Regions from separate parts of the Homo sapiens genome. Here region 1 is linked to region 2. The links come from fine-mapping of genetic effects on gene expression. A gene starts in region 2. The other region holds a variant in brackets. All regions are shown on one strand. Distances are between the middles of the regions.

Region 1 (10,627 bases), 26 kb after region 2:
AAACTAGAATTCAGCTGTTATTCAACAAATATGTATTTCATGTTCAGGAGAAGGTATAAAGCACCTGGAGGCATTACCAAATAGTATATAAATCACGCCATTAGAGAATTAGCACAGCACTTGGAGAGAAATTATGCATGTCCATGAATTGGTTATGAACATTTAGAGTCAACAGGTATAAATACTAAACTGGTAGTGTACAGGGATCTGTATACTCGGTTCAGAGAAATGGGAGGTAGGTGAGGGCAGGAGTATTTAGGAAAGGCATGGGGGGTCTTAGACCTGGAGTTAGCATCTAACTATGGTCTATAATCTTAATTATCAAAGGTTAGTTTCTGTCCTTCCATGATACTCAGGGTTGTGTTGAGCCAAAATTTTAAAAAAATGCCTGAATGCTCAAAATCTGTTCCATTCGAGAATGGATTTCAAAATTTAACCTAATAAAGGCTTCTAGGCTGGGCTCGGTGGCTCATGCCTGTAATCCCAGCACTTTGGGAGGCCAAGGCGGGTGGATCACAAGGTCAGGAGTTCAAGACCAGCCTGGCCAAGATGGTGAAACCCTCCGTCTCTACTAAAAATACAAAAAATTAGCCAGGTGTGGCAGCATGCGCCTGTATTCCCAGCTACTCGGGAGGCTGAGGCAAGGAATTGCTTGAACGCAAAGGTGGAGGTTGTAGTGAGCCAAGATTGCGTGCGCCACTGCACTCCACCCTGGGCGACAGAGCAAGACTCCATCTCAAAAAAAAAAAAAAAAAAAGGCTTCTGTCTCAGGTTAAATCAGTTATTAGCTTAAAATTATGTATTTTTAGCTTAAAATTATGTTTTTTAAAAAGGATTATAAATAAATTACTGAAAATGAAATTAATAAAAGTACCAGGTTTTTTTCTAGGTATGTGTTTATTATCCTTGTTACAAAACTCAAAGAAATCAAATCTACTTAATATTGAAACAGTGTTTAAAAAATCCACCCCCACCTGTATTTTACAGGTTAAAGAAAATACAAGAGAAGAAAAAGATTCTAAAGGAAAAATCTGAGAAGGACTTGGAGCAAAGGAGAGCAGCTGGAGAGGTGTTGGAGCCTGCTAATCTTCTGGCTGAAGAGAAGGACGAGGATCTTCTATTTGAATAATCTTTCCTGTTCTGGTTCTTTGAGAAACCCTAACACTGGCTTCATTTTAATTCACAGTGTGTAGGTTTGATTTGTGTGGCTATTTATTTTTTGGCCTAAGAATTTCACTGGTTGTAAAATTTACCTAGATGTCTATTTATGGGATTACTTTTGCAGAATCATAATTTAGCAACCATTTATCATGGATGAAAGAGATCTGTAAAACCTGCCCAGGAACTTACAGAATTTACTTTGCAGAAGCGTTATCATACTCCATTTACATCTGTGTTACACGTGATCTGCTTACCAAGCATATTAGGAAATACCTCTTAGGAAGCATTAGCGGTCTCAGGCCAATTACTGTGGAGCAGCTTTCATTCCTACCCACTTGCAAACCTTGGCGCTGTTGTCTGAGATTGCTGCAGCCATTCTTGTTACCATGGTACTTCTCAAACTTTGTGAAAACCTGCACTTTTCCTTGCATGACAGGTTCCTGTCTTGTCTGTCATGGGAGCCATTCTGCCAATTTAAATGCGACTGTGGTATAAACAGTAAAATGATTTAAAAGTAAGTCATTCCGTTTTTATTAATTTACTGTTAAGTCATGTTCTCATGCTCAGATCAGTAGTGTCAGCCAGAGCTTTCTCTGCAGACATGTAGGAAGTGGGTAGCTATTTTTCCCACTCCATGTATTAGAGTTTTACAAAAAGGCTTACTTTTGAGACAACTGTTGCATTTTGGGGTACTAATAAATGATTGCCGATGAGTTATGAGGGCATTATAATACTTCCTTATTTGCTAATTAAGAAAATAACTAGTTCCTATTTTAGAGTAAGAAATAAGGTAACTTTTTACTATTTATAAGTGATAAAAACTTGCTTTCATATATGAAGATGAAGCATTTGAGTGGCCACATCAGGTGTCTGAGGTTTTTAGTACTGTTTGATTTGGCATGAGCCATCCATGGGGACTCAGTCTTTCTCGCATCCATTTCCAGGCATTTTTGACATGATTAGCCATGGAATAATGTTTAGTTCTGAAATTGTGACACTGTCTTTATTAATACTGTATTTTAATCAAGTGACATCACAGTCCAGGTAGTTTTTCTTTCTTTTTTTTTTTTTTGAAACAGAGTCTCACTCATTCTGTAGCCCAGGCTAGAGTGCAGTGGCAGCAACATCAGTTCACTGCAACGTCCGCCTCCTCAATTCAAGAGATTCTCCTGCTTCAGTCTCCCGAGTAGCTGGGATTACAGGTTTGCGCCACCATGCCCGGCTAATGTTTATATTTTTAGTGGAGATGGGGTTTCACCATGTTGGCCAGGCTGGTCTTGAACTCCTGACCTCAAGTAATCTGCCTGCCTCGGCCTCCCAAAGTGCTGGGATTACAGGCATAAGCCACCATGCCCAGCCAGTCTAGGCAGTTTTAAAGTACTAAATGATTTTGCAAGCATTTAACATCTCCTATAAGATAGCAGGTCTTAGTTATGTGCCAGGCACTGGTATTAAGTATTTTGTTTATATTACTTCATTACAACAACCATAAGAGGCACATATTATTTTAACCCCCTATTTTACAGAGGAAAAATTGGAGACACAGGAAACTTGAGTAGTCTTAAGTTAAAAAGCTAGAAAGTAGCAAATCCAGAATTTAAGTCTAAGCAGTCTACCTTCAGAATTTTTACACCCTAACTTTTCCTTTCTGTTTCATCTATATTTCAAACTTTGGGTATTTAAAGACATTGGGACTGTTCTGGAGAAGCTGATATTTAGGAAATCTGGTTGCTGCTCACAGAATAAAATCTTAGGTTCAGTGTAAATTCAGTAATGACTGGAAAACCAACAACTCAGTTCACAAGTACTTTAAAAATAGGTAACTGTTTAACATTTCGTCTTCCCAACAGCCTGCTGAACTGTAAATTCTACCATCTCCACTTTGCAGATGAGGAAATTGAGACTTTGACAAGTCAAAGAGCACAGCTGGAATGCAAGTCAAGTATGATTTGATTTAATTTGATCTTTATATTTTAAGAATTACGTACTGCCTTTCTAGGAGGCAAAAATTAGTTTGAAGTAGGGATCCAGATTAGTGGTTTTCCACATGTAGGTAAATTCAATGTAAAGCAACAAGCCAAAGGACCCTAGATTTCTCCTGTGGCTTCTTAAATACCTGGAATGTATTGGCCTTGTTAAAATACTTACAAAAGTGCAGATGACTTTATAGTTTAGCATTTGTTAAAAAGAAATCAAGAAAACAATGGACACATAATTTGTTGTGTGGAGTCAGTTATCTGAAACATAGGAGAAGAATATAGATCAGGAATAGGAATGGAAAGCTGAACTGTGGTGACAGGTGTATATATGTAAGAAACTTTTTGTTTGTTGGTGTATGATTTATGACCTTTGGGAGATGTACAGCAGAAAAAAAGGAGAAATGAAGACTGGAGAAACAAAATATGTTATATATTTGCCAATAATTCACATGCTGCCTCAGTGTCCTCAGATCCCAGGCTGCACATAAGGTCCATTTGCCTGAGTATTATTACATACCTCCTTCTCCAGAAAACTTTCAAGTTCACAGCCTTGCGTTGTCCATCTTTAATACACTTAGTTGTTGGTTTTAATAATTAAGGAAACAGGACCTACCTATACCTGTGCCAACAGGGGGCACTATCCCTCTGTAAAGAACAAATCAAAAAGTATTTTGTGTTGTAGCTGGAGGATCCAATGGTCTTGCTTTTGGCAAAAACTTGAAGAGGAGGGTGGTCTTTACATGTGTGGAAACCTTGAGTGGCCGAGCAAATAGCAAGAGAAATTGCTTAGTGGCTTTTAAAATTTGAAATATAATTTTACTTTTTATTTTTACAATACAGTGTACAGTATGACATCTCAAAATAACAGTGCAGATACAGGAAAAGAGTACAAAGGGGGATTAACAACAGATGTCAGAAGGTTACCTTTATTAAGGCTAAATCCCTGCTTTATATTTTCCACACATTCACAAAATTACATTCAAATCATTCCTTATTGATCCTTATTTCTTAGGCCATGAGAAAAGGAAGATAATCCAGACATTAGATTTTCATAGAAAGCAAATCTGGATTAGTCTAAATAATATTCTCCTTCCATTTGTTCTGACAACGAAAATTTGAGAAACAAAGTTATGCACCAACCTAAAACTTCCTTATTTGGATTTTCCAAGTACATAGCATTAGTTATTGATATCATTTCTATATTAAATGGTAAGACCTCCCCCACACTGGGGTCTCCAGTCAGAACCACAGAGGGACAGGAAATGGAATTGGCCAGAGTGGCTGTACAACTAGGTGTACAGCAAGGCTTTTTTCCATATTCTTTTGTGGAGGTCAGCAACAACTCAGTTTTCACTTTAAGGACTATGTTGAATATCAGCACATCCTCATCACTAGGATTTAGAAAAGTTTAGGACATTTCTATCTACCATTGCTGATGAGGAAGGGGAGAATGATTGATAGACTTCACTGACCTTGAAATATTTATCATCTCAGACTTCCTAAAAGTATGGCATGGCATCACCTCTGCCTTGATACAAGATCTGCTTGTTAAAGCCATGTTCCTGAATCTTGACAGCACATGGCCCTAGTGCAGGCCTAATGTCTACAGC[A/G]GGCACAAGAGCCACTCACTGACACTACCTACACCCTCACTCTAACTTAACATGAACTGCCAATAGTTTAGCTCTTGGAGTTGAAAACAGTTGTCAGTTACAATAAGCAGGATCACAAAACTCCATTGTCAACCATAGACTACACTTCATTCCTGAGACGTAAACTGGAAAACTGAAAAGATTAAGTAAGTGCTAAGTATATTCCTTAGTTTTTAATGCTAAAAATCGGTGTGACCTGTGAAATTTCCTGGCTCTAAACTGGAGTATTTCAGATCTGAAGAGACAGTAGTGTATGGCATTCCTTCCCTCAACCCAAGAATGTTATTTTCTTCCTAAGGAACATTATCTTGAAAATATTTCCACATAAAACACTCTCCAGCCAACTTAATAGGCCATGCAAATTTGAACAGAAAAAGGCGACATATAAACTGTCTACATTTGTTCAAATAAAATTATGTAGAAGAAAAAAAATCAATCAAATATGTACATGACACAAATTACTCCTTAAACATAATTGCTTATGTTAAATTAAATGATGTCAGTATTATTCCAGTGTTTAGCTCTGGGTATAGGAAATGCTGTAGCTAAAGTCACCATAAAAATAAAATCAAGGCATTCACATTTGAGGTTGTTTGTTACACATCACACTATCCTAAAGGCTTGAAAAGACTGCAAATTAAGTTTCCATGCCAATTATATACGTTGAATTTTAAAGCTACAGCTATAGAGACAGTACGAAAATCCTATTAGCTTAAATGTTTCTTTTATGATTTACCAAGCTGTTGCATTCTCGTCATAAGAGGCAGACCTTGTTAGGTTAAAAACCTATTTCTATATATTTAATACCTTTTTCTCTCCAATATTCTTTTCCTAAAATGTTCAAATGACTTTCAGGTCTTCCCTTCCTTTTGATCTTAAAGTCAACTGTCATAATATTTCCCAAGGACATATATAATTTTATTCTAATGCTAAACAAGTGTTTTCAATGACCATTTGTTGATCTATTAAATATTAATATACAGTACAGCAGCTATATTCATCAACAGAATTCCAGTTTATTACCTATATATACGTAGCACAGTCATAGGATACTGTGCTCATACATAAAAATGCAAAAACTGTCAAATGTGCTATCCTCCCATGTATACAAAAAACTATTAGCATCATGAGGAAGAAACTTTTTAAGTCAATACAGATTATAATGAACACCTGCCATTCATAAAAATGTAACATACATTCTATTATACTATGCTGATGAGGGAAGGGAAGCTAAGTGAGTAAATCAGTTGAGACGACTTAAGAAAAAAATTCAGGAAATCATAATTTAAAAAAGATCAGCATATTTTGTATACCTTTAAGTAGATTAGAGTGTGTTGAGTGTAGAGTCTGATCCACAAAGTCTGAGCAAAAAAACTGGTGCTTCTAATGGAATGTTTTTTGTTTTTTTAAGAATCAAAAGACATATAAATGAATTCAAGCCTAACAAAGTAGCTTCAACCCAAAGTGGCACCATTTTGTTTTTTATTTTTCCTTTTTAGGAAAGTATCTCTGATGACTAAATTAGTTTCCTAAGCAAATACTGCCTTGCCCAGTGCATAGAAGCACAGTCCCTCTGCTCAATATTCCCAATGAAGTCATTTAAGTGTTAATGATTTAACACTTAAGAATAATCACATCAATATTTGTGTGAGACATGGACGCTTGTGTATACAAGTTTTTCACAGAGATACAACTAAGCAGAAAGGGTTTAGGTGAAAACAAAAGGTTTTAACAGGACAAAATGGAATGCTCTGTTGAAAGCTTCCATTTAGAATCCCAAAATGAGGCAAGAACCGCTAAAGCCATGTATAGAGAATAAAGGATGCCATGCACAAACTGCCTAAGGGAACTGTCGTCTCACTAATTCAAGAGATCTAAGAACAGATCTACAGCTTATACTGCTGCCTTCCATCTTATCCTCAATCTTGCTGCAGTGTCGGGCAGTCCTCCTATTGGCAGTTTTTGCCAGATCAAGTCCAACATGCCACAGAATGGATGTTTCTTTCACCTCAGCCAAGTGGATGGTACCCACTGAGGTTCAGTATCAAGTTTGTTAATTAACCTAAGCAATTCCTGATAGGCTTTATCAAGATCGGAATTCACAATTGCCGTATCAAAGTAGTGGCCATTGTTCTGCTCCATCTCTCTTGTCTTCTCAATGATTTCTCTCAACTCTTCAGGCTGCAAACAGAAGATAAAAACTGTGAGATAATTCCTTTCCTAACCAAATAATATAGGATGAGTCAGAGATGGCCAAAGAACAAGGAGCGACCTTCATAGCTTTCCTTCTGTCTCTCCCAACCTCAGGAGCTCCTTTCCAACCCTGTCACGGCCACAATGGTTACCTTTGCTTTGGCATCTTCACGACTCATATTATGAACCATCTGGGACTCAATATATCCTGTTTTATACCACTATTTAGGTTTTCACATATTTTGTCTTATCTCACCAACAAAACTACAAGCTTCAAGAACACACACTGTTTCCCTACAAACATTTGTTTTCAAACATTCTAGACACTATAACCTCTTCCTAATAGTAACATCTGTAATATGGAGTGAACCTTTCTGGTTGGAGCAAGGACCTAAAATGCCATTTACTTTTGGCTCTAGTAAAGAGCCCTTGCCCTATACTATCTGCTGCAGAGAGTTAAAAGTATCCTACCAGAGTTTGGGAAACTATATAGAGTAGCCTACTTTAAAATACTGACTGAAGGAAAGGGCCATTTTACAAAGATAAGCAGGCAGCAAGGCTATGTGCAAAACTTATCCTGAACCCTCTAATTATCAGGCACATGGGTTCAAGAAAGTGAAACTCACCTCAAATCACCCCTGCCAATGAAGACAACTAACTTAAACTCAAGACAAAATGTCTCAGATATAAAAGTCACACATCAATACTATATTGGACCCATAGTACAAAACAATTTATATCATTCAACTGTTTGAACTTCTGTAACAGTAAGAAAACATATTAAAAATATGACAACTCTGGCTTGTCCTGAGGCAGTTTCTTGCATGACTCTCATTCTGGAATGTTGTACATCTGAATATGGCACACAGAATCCTTTGTTCCCAGCAGGGAATCTACTTCACCACTGTAACTGAACACACTGACATTTTTGCTAAAACTTATGTCTACCGTAAGCTCAAGATTATTGGAAGAACATTCTAGGACTCCACAGAGAACTGAAACTTTGTGGTATTGGAGTTGAAATGAAAATGATAAAGCCCGAATCCACCTAGTTTTTATCAAATTTAAGGCATTGTTATTCCATTTTGTGCCAAAATGGCTTATATCACTTATTTAGTACTTCATGTCTGAAGTTCTCTTTCAAATTACAATCCACGACTAAGATGAAACAAAATGTTTTAGCTCAAAATTTTTAGCTGAACTAGGCAAAACTGACAATAAGTTCATACTGCTAGATAGCCACTCTCAAGCCTTCATACTAGCAGAACAGATTCAGAGATTCAGAATGCAACTAGATAACCGGTTGGTTACATTTTGTAACGCCATCATTTTCTTAGCACAATTTTATAGAGTTAAAATTGAAAATCTGTTTTACTTCAGCACTTCTATCATTGAGTAATAAAGCACTATTAGAAATACCAATACCAGCGCAGGGGCTCCCCCGCCTGTAATCTCAGCACTTTGGGAGGCCAAGGTAGGTGGATCACATGGGGCCGGGAGCTTGAGACCAGCCTGGCCAACAGGGCAAAACCCCGTCTCTATTAAAAATACAAAAAATAGCCAGGCGTGATGGTGCACATCTGTAATCCCAGCTACTTGGGAGGCTGAGGCATGAGAATCACTTAAACCCAGGAAGCAGAGGTTGCAGTGAACCAAGATTGTGCCACTGCACTCCAGCCTGGGCGACAGAGTGAGACTCTGTCTCAAAAAAAAGAAAGAAATATCACAGGAGAAAAAAACTTAAGTAGAATAAATACAATCAGATACACCATCCTCTACACCAAAAACTGTGGAATACACATCCTAACAGGTGTGCACAGAACATTCACCAAGAAAGAACAGATGTTGGGCCATAAAATAAGGCTCAACAAATTTGAAAAGACTGACATCTTTCAGGGTCTGACCACCTGGAATTATAAATCAGTTAAAATCTTTTTCACATCTCCAAATAGGTGGAAACTATATAACATACTTCTAAATAACTCATGTGTTAAAGAGAAAAACAAGGAAGCGGGGTGCCGGGGGCTCAGGCCCATAATCCCAGCACTTTGGAAGGCTGAGGCAGGTGGATCACCTGAGGTCGGGAGTTTGGGACCAGCCTGACCAACATGGAGAAACCCCATCTCTACTAAAAATACAAAATTAGCTGGGCGTGGTGGTGCATGCCTATAATCCCAGCTACTCGGGAGGCTGAGGCAAGAGAATTGCTTGAACCCGGGAGGCAGAGGTTGCAGTGAGCAGAGATAGTGCCACTGCACTCCAGCCTGGGCAACAAGAGCGAAACCCCATCTCAAAAAAAAAAAAAAAAAAAATGAAGGGAAATTAGAAAATACTTCTAACAAAATGGTAACAAAAATACAATGCCAAAACTTACGGGATGCAACTAAAGAACTGTTTCGAGGGAAATTTATAATTTCAAATGCCTACATTTGAAAAGAAGAGTTTAAAAATTAAGCATTCATCTTGAGAAACTAAAGCAAGTGCAAATTATAGTCAAAGAAAGCATAAAAAGAAATGAATTAAATAGAAAAGAGACAATAAAGACAAATGCCCTCCAACTTATTTCTTTTGCTAAAGTGTCTGATTATTCCTTTTGATAATAATAATAATAATTATTATTATTATTATTTATTTCCTGGTTCCAGATTGTGTCTTTATTCCTCTTTCTGACAGACAGCAGAGCATTTGTCTGGCATATATTCTCTCTTACCACAATATAGATGATTTTCTGTGACTTTAACAATACATACAAGAAAAAAATCACATCTTTATGCCAATACCATTCTTTCACAATACTAGAAGAACAGATTCAGAGTACAATTACATAACTGGTTGGTTACATTTTGCATCCAGTGAGTAACACCATCATCTTCTTAGTTTCTATATCTATTTATTTATTTATTTATTTATTTATTTATTTATTTATTTATTTTTGAGACCAAGTCTTGCTGTGTTGCCCAGGCTGGAGTGCAGTAGCACGAACTCGGCCTCTTCAGTAGCCAGTACCACAGGCGTGCACCACCATGCCTGGCTAATGTTTTTTGTATTTTTAGTAGAGACAGGATTTCACTATGTTGCCCAGGCTGGTCTCGAACTCCTGGCCTCAAGTGATGCGTCCGCCGTATCTCAAAATAATAAGAGCTATTTATGACAAACCCACAGCCAATATCATACTGAATGGACAAAAACTGGAAGCATTCCCTTTGAAAACTGGCGCAAGACAGGGATGCCCTCTCTCACCACTCCTATTCAACACAGTGTTGGAAGTTCTGGCCAGGGCAATCAGGCAGGAGAAAGAAATAAAGGGTATTCAATTAGGAAAAGAGGAAGTCGAATTATCCCTGTTTGCAGATGACATGATTGTACATGTAGAAAACTCCATCGTCTCAGCCCAAAATCTCCTTAAGCTGATAAGCAACTTCAGCAAAGTCTCAGGATACAAAATCAATGTGCAGAAATCACAAGCATTCCTATACATCAATAACAGACAAAGAGAGAGCCAAATCATGAGTGAACTCCCATTCACAATTGCTACAAAGAGAATAAAATACCTAGGAATCCAACTTACAAGGGATGTGAAGGACCTCTTCAAGGAGAACTACAAACCACTGCTCAACCAAGTAAAAGAGGACCAAACAAATGGAA
Region 2 (10,818 bases):
AGAAAGTTAGCTGGGCAGGGTGGCACATGCCTGTAGTTCCAGCTACTTGGGAGGACTGCTTGAGGAACACTTGAACACAGGAGTTCAAGGCTGCAGCGACCTATGATCATACCACTACACTGCAGCCTGGGTGACAGAGCAAGACCCCAATTCTTAAAAAAAAAAAAAAAAAGTACAAGATTAGACACTACTTTAGGTACTACTAGGACAGTGATGTGAAGACTTACCTAAGTTTAACAAATAGTCTCAAAGTAGTTTAATAATTTTGGGCGGGGCTATAGCTAAGTCATAGCAAAACATTTAAAACAATCCATGTGCTAAGTAGCAGTCACTACCTAAGGCATAAGACATCCTCAAAATCTATGTATCATCTAAGGCTATAATAAAAAAAATTAAAATGTCAGTATGTATAAAATTAATCACTTGCAGAAGTGAGAAAGTATCAGTAAACCAGACGGCTGAGGAGATTCAGAAGGGTAAGTTGAATCAAGGTGACTGATATGAAGCCTTTCGGACATGATGGTAACTAATGACCTAAAACTAACACCTAACAAATTATAGTAAGATGGCTGAAACTAAAACCTACGTAATGGTATTGTACACCATGTTTAAAAAAAGAGTATTCACAAAGGTGATGATTTACATGGGGCCCAGAAAAGGCATCCAATAAGTAAAAAATGAATGCTCATCCAAAACTGTCTGAAAGATACCACGAGATCTGGTAGATGCAAACATTCTAATTACCAGCAAGATATACAATGTTGGATTTCAGGTGTGTATATACACGCATAGTATATTGCTTTTTCAAAGCTTATATAAAAGATCCCTAAAATCCATTTGCCCCATTTTCATGCTTACCCAGTGATCTCATTACTATTTTAGCTTTAAATCAAGAAAAAGGCATCCAACATATTCAGGCCTACCAATGTAAATGAACTAGTACTCTGACTTACCTGTCTCTAAGTTTGGTTACCATGAGTCAATTATCAAGATCCTGATAAACACTAGAAATAAAATTCAAGTTATCTGATCCATAAAATCCTAGGATGTACTAATTAAACTACTATTAAGAGATCTTGCTTAGATAGCTAATTGGCATCCTTTTCTAACAACTTTGTATGTAAAAGGTTTAAGTATAAAAGGAGCTTTTTTTTTTAAGCTGCAGCTTGCAATTTACAAAAAATGTATTTTTAAATAAACCATTTTAAATCTGAAATTTATATTACAGATATTTTTCTCACTTACCTTTTTCTTTGTCCACCCTAATGACAACCACACACTCATTCCTGCCAATTCGGATGAGTTTGTTGATAGAACGGATACGCCTTCTGGATAATTCACTAAGAAGAATCATGCCTTCAATGTTGTTGTATTCCAGCAAGCTGACATAAGCCCCCATTTCAGCAATGGATCTGACATTCACCATCACTACATCTTCCACCTCAGGAAATTTGTGTTGATAAAATCTACAACTTAGACCCGGCATTCTGCAATTTAAACAAAAGAATTAAGTAAGTATTCAGTTAAGGTGAAAATAAAAAAAAAATCAATTTCCACATCCTGCCACTGAAAGAAAAGATGAAGAAAAAAATAGTTATTAGTCTTAGTCTTCTCATCCTTTGAAACTTCTTAAGTGGTACCAGAAAACAGATAATGTTCAGGAACCAAGCTTTAATTTTTATTTTGCTCAACATTTTTGTAATGCTTGGGTGATTCTCTGCCTTTAGTTTCAGAGGAATCATAAAAAATAATGACCATCTATAAAGTACTCCAAGACCTAAGGATTAAAGGAATACCTCAAGAGTAAAATACTACTTTAAGGCATATCAAATGATGGGAAGCATCACTATTATAACTAATCAGAAAACTAAAGCTACTCTTTGCCGAAGTGAGCAAACATTGTATACGCTACCACTCACTATATAAAGGAAAAAATTTTCTACCTAAACCCTAACCAATATACCAAATGATACATTCTGTCATTTATTATAGCCAAAATTACAGTGTCACATGTCAAAACAACAAAAACTAAAAAAATTTTAATCACAAAATAAACTAAAATGCATCCTCCTCTCATAATTCTTTTTCCTTGAATTCACAATGTCTAGCTTCTCTTATCCCCAATACTCCCAAATATTCCTTTCTTTTATTGAATAGGTATACCTAATCTTGAGAATAGCTTTAATCTCCATTACTACAAAGTTCAAGTTTCTCTTAACCTCCAAGCATTAAAGATATTTACAATTATTCCCTTTGATCCACCCAACCTACTTTCAGCACTACTCCTTTTATGATCCACAAGCCTGAAATCATAGCCTGGGTAGAAGCATATTTAAAAAAGGAAGCTCTCAAACTAATCATGGCTGATGATTTTCATGTTTTTCTGTTAACCTTCACTGTTGTCACTGCTCAAAACGTAGGTAGTAACAGAACTTAAAGGCCTAAGAAAACCTTGTGAAAATTCATATAATAACTTATTAATTGGCACCTGCCTATATCTTCTCAGTGGCTTCCCACTGACTTATGTATCTTTCCACTACCTACAGAATCCTATATGATCTGGCCATTGCCTATCTCCTTGTGGTACAACTTTCTCCCTAGTTCTCCCCATTTTATAGATTAAAAAACTGAAGCACAGGTTAAGTTACTTGTTCTTTCACATACTGCTAACAGGTGATGAGTCAGGATTTGAATCCATGAAGTCTGGATCCAGAGTCTGTCCTCTTATCAGTAAGACTATATTCTCTCAAAACTATTCATAAATATATTATAATTAGAAACATTTTACTTAAAAAGCAACATTAATATATATTCAGTGCCAGAGTACATAACACCAATAAGTGCAAACTATTAGTACTCATCTGTTTGACAACAAAGAGCAGCATATTAATGACAGTAGCAGAGATGTATTTCTTTGTAGGGAATACAAAATCCCTACAAAATAGGGATTTAGCAAATAAAGAGAAGTAGACATTCAATGGCCTTACCCACCAAGAAACAGCTGACTGTTTGTTTCGTTTTTAAACAGGGCTTTTCGAGGGTGGGGGTGGGGAAACTGTTGTTGAATATGTGTATGTAAAGCTCTCAAATTTGAGAGCTAAAAAGTTTCAAATTGGGCATAAAAATAAACTATGTTACAGAAATGTATGGAACAGTTGCAAGACATTTGACCAGTGAAAACCACATTTACTTACCAAGCTTCTCCAAACAGTAAAGGTGATGCTTTTAGGGGAAGCAAGGCTTAATTTGATGGTTAAAAAACATGGGCAATCATGTAAGAGAATCCTGAAGGGATATGACTATGAATACTATTTCTTCAGGAGGCACAAGTCTCTTTGCAACATAAAGGGTAAGTAAAGGAATACTGTTGATGGTATGTTATTCATAGTAAAGATAGATAGTAGTTAAGTACAAAAAGAATCCATACCACAAAAACCTGCATATTGGTTGACAATTTTTGAACATATTGCCTAATGAAATGCTAATAACTTAAATTTTTTTTTTAACTTAAAAAAATCATTCCGCAATATCGAAGTCACACTAGGTGACTTCACCTCTTTATCTTTTTCACAGCATTCTTATTTTATTTGGTCCTCAAGAAGTGTCAAATCAGGCAATTAACATAGTAAACTCGGGGAACAACTCTAGCCTTGTGTTCCAGTCCTTGCTCTGCTACTTACTAGAAGTGGCTGCTTGGGAAAGATAACATCCTTTGAACTGTAGTTTCTCATCTGTGCCATGTACATCACAGGTTTACTGAGGGTATCACATGTATACGTAAAAACATTTTGAAAACCATTATGTGCTAGTCAAACATAAAATATTGAAAGAAAAAGAAGGTATTTCCATTTTGTAATATAATAATTTGTTAATTTTTTTTTCAGTAGCTACTATGTACTAAGCACTAATGATACAACAAGAAAGACTCTTACCAGGCCAGGCGCAGTGGCTCACACCTGTAATCCCAGCACTTTGGGAGGCCGAGGCGGGTGGATCACTTGAAACCAGGAGTTCGAGGCCAGCCTGGTCAACATGGTGAAACCCCATTTCTACTAAAAATACCAAAATTAGCTGGGTGTGGTGGCAGGCACCTGTAATCCCACTACTATAGTGGCTGAGGCAGGAGAATCCCTTGAACCCAGGGGCAGAGGCTACAGTGAGCTGAGATCGTGCCACTACACTCCAGCCTGGGCAACAGAGACTCTGTCTCAAAAAAAAAAAGAAAAAAGAAAAAAGAAAAAAAAAAAAGACTCTTACCTAAGTAATTAAGTATAGAGTGGGAAACAAACTAGCAAGCAAATAATTACAATACAAAGTACTATGAAAGGGCACAGTGAAGCAATGAACAGGAAAGGTGGAACAGAAATACTAAATTATAATACTTCCTTAAGAACAAATGCTTAATAAGTACTAGCGTAGGAGCTAAACTCAAGTAATCCGACATCAAATCCAGAATGTCTTTAACCCACAGAACCTCAATATCACAACATGCTATAATACTCTTATGTGTTCTGATGTAAAAAGTATCAGCCACCTTTCAAAATATATCAACCAAACTCCAGGCTAATTTCAAATACCCTGCATAGTCAGTTATTTTGCATGACAAATGGTAGGTAGGACTTCTTTCTCAAAACAGTGCATGGTCAAACTGCTATAATGGATATAGAAGTTCACATTCCTTTCCAAAATATATTATGTGATGGGGACAACTCTCGTGATAATTCTAATTTGGATCTAACACGTATTAGGAATGCTCTCTGAATGCTAGTTCTTGGTATAGGAGTGCTACATAAGTAAAGCTTTTATTTCATCATTATAGTTGAAAAAGAAAGTTATCACCGAATCTCTACAAACATTACTGTGCATGAGACAACTACATCTTTTGGCACCAGATGAACTAAGAATAGGTAGCAAAGTTCTGTACAAGTCACCCCCAAACTATTGACAGAGATTGTTCCTTGAATAACAACTCAATTGAGGGGAAATAAAGACTTCTCTGCTATACTTTTTCTCGAAGAAACCATGTTTTTTGCTTAATAAAAATTTAAAAAGCCTAAGTTTTGAGGATAAAGAGACCTCAGCATGACTGTGTATTTAACCCGAAAATATATCCTTATCTTAGGTTTTAGTTATGCTTAACTAACATAGTTAACCTAACATATGCTTAACACAGTTCTATTCTCATTGTCGCCAAAATACGACAAACTGATAGTAACAGTAATAAACTCAAGTCTCATTTAGTTTTGGTTCAAGGGGTGACTCATTCAATTATCAGATGAAAAACTACTCGGACCCCGCTCTTTCCAACACGGTGCCCGTCCCACAGGTTTCTCAGGTAAGAGGCCAGTTTGGTTTCCACTGAGACGCAGGGGAAATTTTTGGTAGAGCTGTTGGGGCGGAAGAAAAGATGGAATTCTCAAGCCTGGAAAAAGCAAAGTGCTCAGCGTCCTGAGCCGGGGTTAAGAGTTACGGTGTCACAGCGTTCTCCTGAGACCGCCCCATCGTCATGGCATTCTCACTTTCGGCATATTGTAGAGGCTGTACAATCCACTCGGCCCACTTTCCTTCACGAGATTCCTCTGCTCGAACAACGATGCCTCTGGAACACAGGATGACCTACACGGAGCCGGCGAGGAGGCCCACGACAGCGCGGGTGGTGGCGGTGCTGTCCAGCCACTTCCCGCGCAGGGACGGGAAAGGGAGGTATTAGCCCGGGGCCTACCCGCTCTCGAACACCCATGTCACTGGACACAAACCAAAGTGAGTTCCTGGAGAAACCGAGCTTGGGATTAGTCACCTGAGGTATGTGTGTGATTCCCGCACTGGAGCCCAGAGCCGACTTCTTCAATCACAGAGACCAGACTTGCTTCCCCCTCACCGGCCGCCGATCCTCCTCAGCGTGCGCTTCGCTCACTCCACCGCGCATGCGGAACCTCCTCGCATGCGCAAGCGCTGAACGAATAGAGGCCCCTCTTCATCATTAACCATAGAGTCTGGGTCCTCCGAGAACAAGGACGAATGTAGATCATGGAAGGACCTGAAAAGTACTGTTTCTCGCTATCTTAGCTTTAGCTAAGTAACCTTCAAGGCGCGAGAAAGACATAGGACTCCGATTCCTTGCCTCTGAAGAATGAATCCTCTTTCAAAGTTTCAGCTAACCATGAGATGGCGCTGTGACCAAAGACGAAAGGTGGAGAAAGACAAGGCGTGCACGCTTCGCTCCTAGTCTTTGGCCTGGCGCGTGCCGCGTATTGCGCAGCCGCAGGGAAGCTGGATGGGGAGGGGTTGGGAGGCGAACCGGAATTGAGGGGTGGTTCCGCGGTGCGCGCGCCTCGACATCCGGGCAACGCCTCTGTTCTGTCCTCCCCCTTCGTCGCCTGTGACAACCGGAAGCGGAAGTGAAAATGGGTGTCCCTGCTGCCTCTTAGCAACAAGAGGGGTCAAGTGACACAACCAGCTGACTCCCGTAGAGGAAGACACTGTGGAGGCCAGTTCTGGAGCTATTGCAGCCTCGGTTGCCCGGCCGGGGACCCGAGCCGAAAAGTTATCGTCAGAATGTCGGGCAAAGACCGAATTGAAATCTTTCCCTCGCGAATGTAAGTAAAGGAATGGGATAAGCCGCTTTCACAGGTTTAGGAACCCGGAGCGCGGTCCCTTCAGACCCTGGGCCACAGTGAGGGTCCTTGTTTCCTGGGAGGATCCTGAGCTTTTCCCAGGTTCTTTTCTTGAGTCTAGGGCGAGGCTTCCTGACGGCCTCTTCGCGCATTCCTCCTGAGTGAATCAGGCTGGACGAAGCGATCCCAGCCGGTAGGAAAAGGCGCCCGGCCGGCGGGCTTTTGTGGAGGTCTGCTGTCTTTATTCATTAATGGATTCATCCATTCCACATACCCTTATTGAGCCGGGCACTGGATTTATATAACTGAACCGTCGCCACCTCTGCCCTACAGAGCTCACAGTTTACGTAGCCAGACATTCGTCTGGAAAGGCCAAGGAGGTTTTAATAAATGCTCTGAGAAGGGAAGTTTACTGAGGATATAGAAGAGGTCCCTAAGCCAAAGTGGGGATGGAATCGAATCGCCCTAGCATAGCCCTCGGATTCGATCTTGGATCCCCTTACTCATTTTCCAAGATCCCGCCAAATGTCACCTGCTGTGAGAGGATATCCCTGTGTTTCTGAGGCACTGCTTTTGCTCTCTCACCGCTGCACCTTGTTCAGACCTGTGTTAATACCGGTCATCACGCTGTAAAGTAGATATTTGTTTATGTGTCTTTCTCTCCCACTAGACTGTGGGCTCTCTCCAGGATGAAAGAGTGTCTTAATCCATAGAAGGTCCACAAAAAAATATTTCTTGAAAGAACTCATGCTTGGGAATACGCTCAGTTGTGGGCTGCCTTTCTTTTGGGGCCTGAATTCTTTGTCAGGAAAATGGCATATCACTGTAGGTGTTTGGCTAGTTTGTAAGGAAAATTTTGACGTTTTCTCAAATGTGCCTAACAACTTGCTCCCTTTCTCCTCCTCATCCTGTTTATTTTTATTTAGTTTGTTGTTTGTTTGTTTTAATAAGAGACAGGGTCTCCCAGGCTGGGGTGCAGTGGTATGATCAGAGCTCACAGCAGCCTCAAACCCCTGGGCTCAAGTGATCCTCCGGCCTCAGCCTCCCTGGCGGCTGAGATTATAGATGGGAGCCACCGCGCCTGGCTTTCCCTTTTTCTTTTCAGTGAGGAAGCAGAAAATCAGTTTTGACCCTGACATTTAGACCCTTTTATTGTGGTCCTATCTCTGTGGGGGTGTTTTGTTGTTTTTCCTCATTCTGTCCTTTGAGAGAATCTGAGGATGCTTAAAATAAAAGTTATATTCAAACCTGAAGCCCAGATTTCTTTCTGCCCGGTGACTAAATAGCTCTTAATGAAATGAAGTTTTTAAATTTTTTACCTTCACCTGTTGACTTTCTAATAGCTGTTTGCACTAAGTAGGCAGCAAGCTAGTTGTGGGGAAATAAAGATGAGGACTATCCCGAGGTAGTGACAACTGCAGAACTCCTAGGACGTGATGACTCAGTCAAAACTTCTGCACTGAAAGACATCGACACTAGTTTATCTTCTAGCAATGTAAGGCCTGCCCCTAGGGTGACCCCAGGCCGCCCCCCGCCGCCCCCGCCATTAAAATGCCTGCCTGAAAAAGCTCAAAGCTAGGGGGAGAATTTACTGTTTGTTCTAGTCAACACCTAATTGATAGACCCCTCTCGTTCCCTTTTTAGAGCATTTACGAAACAGGCTTACAATTGTTAATATGTATCTCTTCCAACTCTGAAGTGTCCCTTCAAGTATCTTTGAGAGCCATTTCTTTGAAACGTAATCATCAGGAGGGATAGGGGCTTTGTCTCCCAGTCTGTGTGAGAGGATAGAATAGTAACTTACTAATTGCCAGGTAGTATGGCGTTTACACTGACCAACACTTTAAGGTTTCTCTTCTCTGACTCTTCTTGCGGCTGGCTCCCTGCCACTCCCTTACTCTCTTTTTTAAAATGGCCAGTCACCTCTGCACAAATGAGAATTGAGCTCAGCCCTTTCCCCTACTATCAGTGGTTTACTGAATAAAATCTGTTTTCACTACTTTAACGAATGTCTGGCTGGGTTTATCTTTGACAGCAGTCAGAATAACTTTTTTGTTTTTACTTTGAAACTTTTACTTTGAGACTAAGAGGCAAAAATAGACATCTTTGGGCTTAGGTAAGAAAATGATAGGCTCATGAAGGTGAAACTACTATTTGAAAGCTCTCAGCTTGCTGATTGAGAGGAAAATCAGGTGCAGGAAATAATCTCTTCTCTAAATATTTTCCCCATGGCTGGCAGCAGGCTTTTTGTCATGTAGTCAGATGTCTTTGATTCAGCTGGAAGAAAAGTCATCATCCTAGCTAAAGGTCAAACTTTTTGAGTAGGACTGAGCAGCTCTGAAACATGTAAAGGAGCAAGTTTTAAAAGCCATAGGCTAGAAAATATACTGGCAGCTTGTTTCACAGACATTTCCATTCAACAGTATTATTCTGTGATGTTACTTTCACCCACTTTCGTACCAGAGAAAGCAAAAACAATTGTAGAGTGGAAGTAAAAGACGCATGAAAAATTTGGAGTCAACAGAAGTCCACTAAATCCAGGTTCTGCTACATATTAGCTGTAAGTGTGCACGCTGCTCTTAGAGTTTCAGGAATTAAAATTGCCCATTTCACAAAGATGCCATTCCCTAGGAGGAAAATAAAATTAACATGGTAAATTCAATTTTATCAACCAGTTTACCTTTTACTATAAACTGGCTGGAATATGCAGTACTACAATTTGACTTAAATTTGATCCAGCTCTTTGAGCCCAAGTTCTAGTATTTACTATCAACAATACATTATGTTAAATGCACACATTGAGATGGATAGCTCCTTCTCAGGCTGGAAACTAAACGACCTTCACTTGATAAGACCTCTTGTGAGACCAGTCAGTGCAGAGTCAGCCAGTGATAATTGTTCTCTTTAAGGGGAGGCACATGTTTGGGGTACAGTGAACGTAGGTTGGAGCCTTAGTTTGAGCATTGGGAAAGTCAGTGGAATCAAAAGTCTGGTTCAAGTCCCTGCCCTGCCTTTTCTTCACTGAGTAACTTTGAGAAAGTTGTTTTACTTTTCTAAGCCTCATTTTTCTAATCTTTAAGTTAATGTCTAAAGTCCCTTTCAGCTATAGAATTGTCTTAGTGATCTTAGCCCTATGGTAAAAGATTCCAGTATAATTTAAGAATTTGGCCAAATGGTGTTTGTTTGTTTTTGTTTTTTTTTTTTTGTTTTTGTTTTTTTGAGGCAGGTTTTCCCTCTGTTGCCCAGGCTGGAGTGCAGTGACCCGATCTTGGCTCACTGCAACCTCTGCCTGCCAGGTTCAAGTGATTTTTGTGCCTCAGACTCCTGAGTAGCTGGGACCACAGGGATGCAGCACCATACCCAGCTAATTTTTGTATTTTTTGGTAGAGATGGGGTTTCACTATGTTGGCCAGGGTGGTCTCGAACTCCTGACCTCAAGTTATCCACCTGCCTCGGCCTCCCAAAGTGTTGGTATTACAGGTGTGAGCCACTGCACCTGGCCAAAAAAGTTTATTAGTACATGCGATTTTAAAACACCAGTCATATGAAATTATATCCCCTTAAATCACTGTGTCTAGGTTATACTGTGTCTAGGTTATACAACCTTATTGTTGAATTTTATTACCCAAACACTTGTTTTTTTGAGACCGAGTCTTGCTCTGTTGTCCAGGCTGCAGTGCAGTGGCATGATCACAGCTCACTGCCTCAACCTCCTGGGCTCAATCAGTCCTCTCACCTTAGCCTTCTTTGTATATGGGATTACCGGTGTGCCCTACCATGCCCAGGTAATTTTGATATTTTTTTTTTTTTGTAGAGACAGGGTTTCACCTTGTTTCCCAGGCTGGTCTTGAACTCAAGCAATCTACCCACCTTAGCCTCCCAAAGTGCTGATTATAGACATAAGCCACTGTACCACTTACCTTATTTAGAGCATTCTTCCTAAGGTCCTCCAGGTACTTTTCATTAGCTCTTTTTCCTGCCTGAAATACTCTTTCCCCGGAACTTATAACTGGCTCCTTTGGCTGTTCTAGTCTCTTAAGAGAGGCTGTTCCTGATCACCCAATCTAAAGTGAACACCATGTTTGCTTCTGTCATAATTCCTTATTTTAATTTTATTGTAGCATGTACTACTGCATGGTATGACATTTTATTTCTAGTCTTTTTTTTTTTTTTTTTTTTTTTTTTTTTTTGAGACAGGGTCTTA

Evidence for each region. PIP is the estimated chance that this variant, and not a neighbour inherited with it, causes the effect. A credible set is the group of variants that fine-mapping cannot tell apart.
Region 1: its variant is the best candidate, but not a certain one, in a credible set for the expression of ATP6V1D in lung (TOPMed, PIP 0.57).

The regions. Positions count from the first base shown.
Region 1 is chr14:67,329,123-67,339,749 of GRCh38, reverse strand. PALS1 (protein associated with LIN7 1, MAGUK p55 family member) reads right to left here. Exons shown (of 15, transcript NM_022474.4): 15 at 3,689-6,970. The coding sequence ends at 6,794. It overlaps ATP6V1D (ATPase H+ transporting V1 subunit D), which reads left to right. Exons shown (of 9, transcript NM_015994.4): 9 at 988-1,878. The coding sequence ends at 1,129. It also overlaps a transcript of GPHN not described here. Among named protein-coding and RNA genes, the nearest start is that of ATP6V1D, 25 kb to the left of the region's middle. The variant A/G (reference allele first, on the strand shown) is at 4,751.
Region 2 is chr14:67,355,436-67,366,253 of GRCh38, reverse strand. ATP6V1D (ATPase H+ transporting V1 subunit D) reads left to right here and starts at 6,450. Exons shown (of 9, transcript NM_015994.4): 1 at 6,450-6,596. The coding sequence starts at 6,556. It overlaps EIF2S1 (eukaryotic translation initiation factor 2 subunit alpha), which reads right to left and starts at 5,926. Exons shown (of 8, transcript NM_004094.5): 1 at 5,798-5,926; 2 at 1,246-1,487. The coding sequence starts at 1,486. It also overlaps a transcript of GPHN not described here. RefSeq lists enhancers at 5,671-6,470, 6,491-6,710, 6,553-7,339.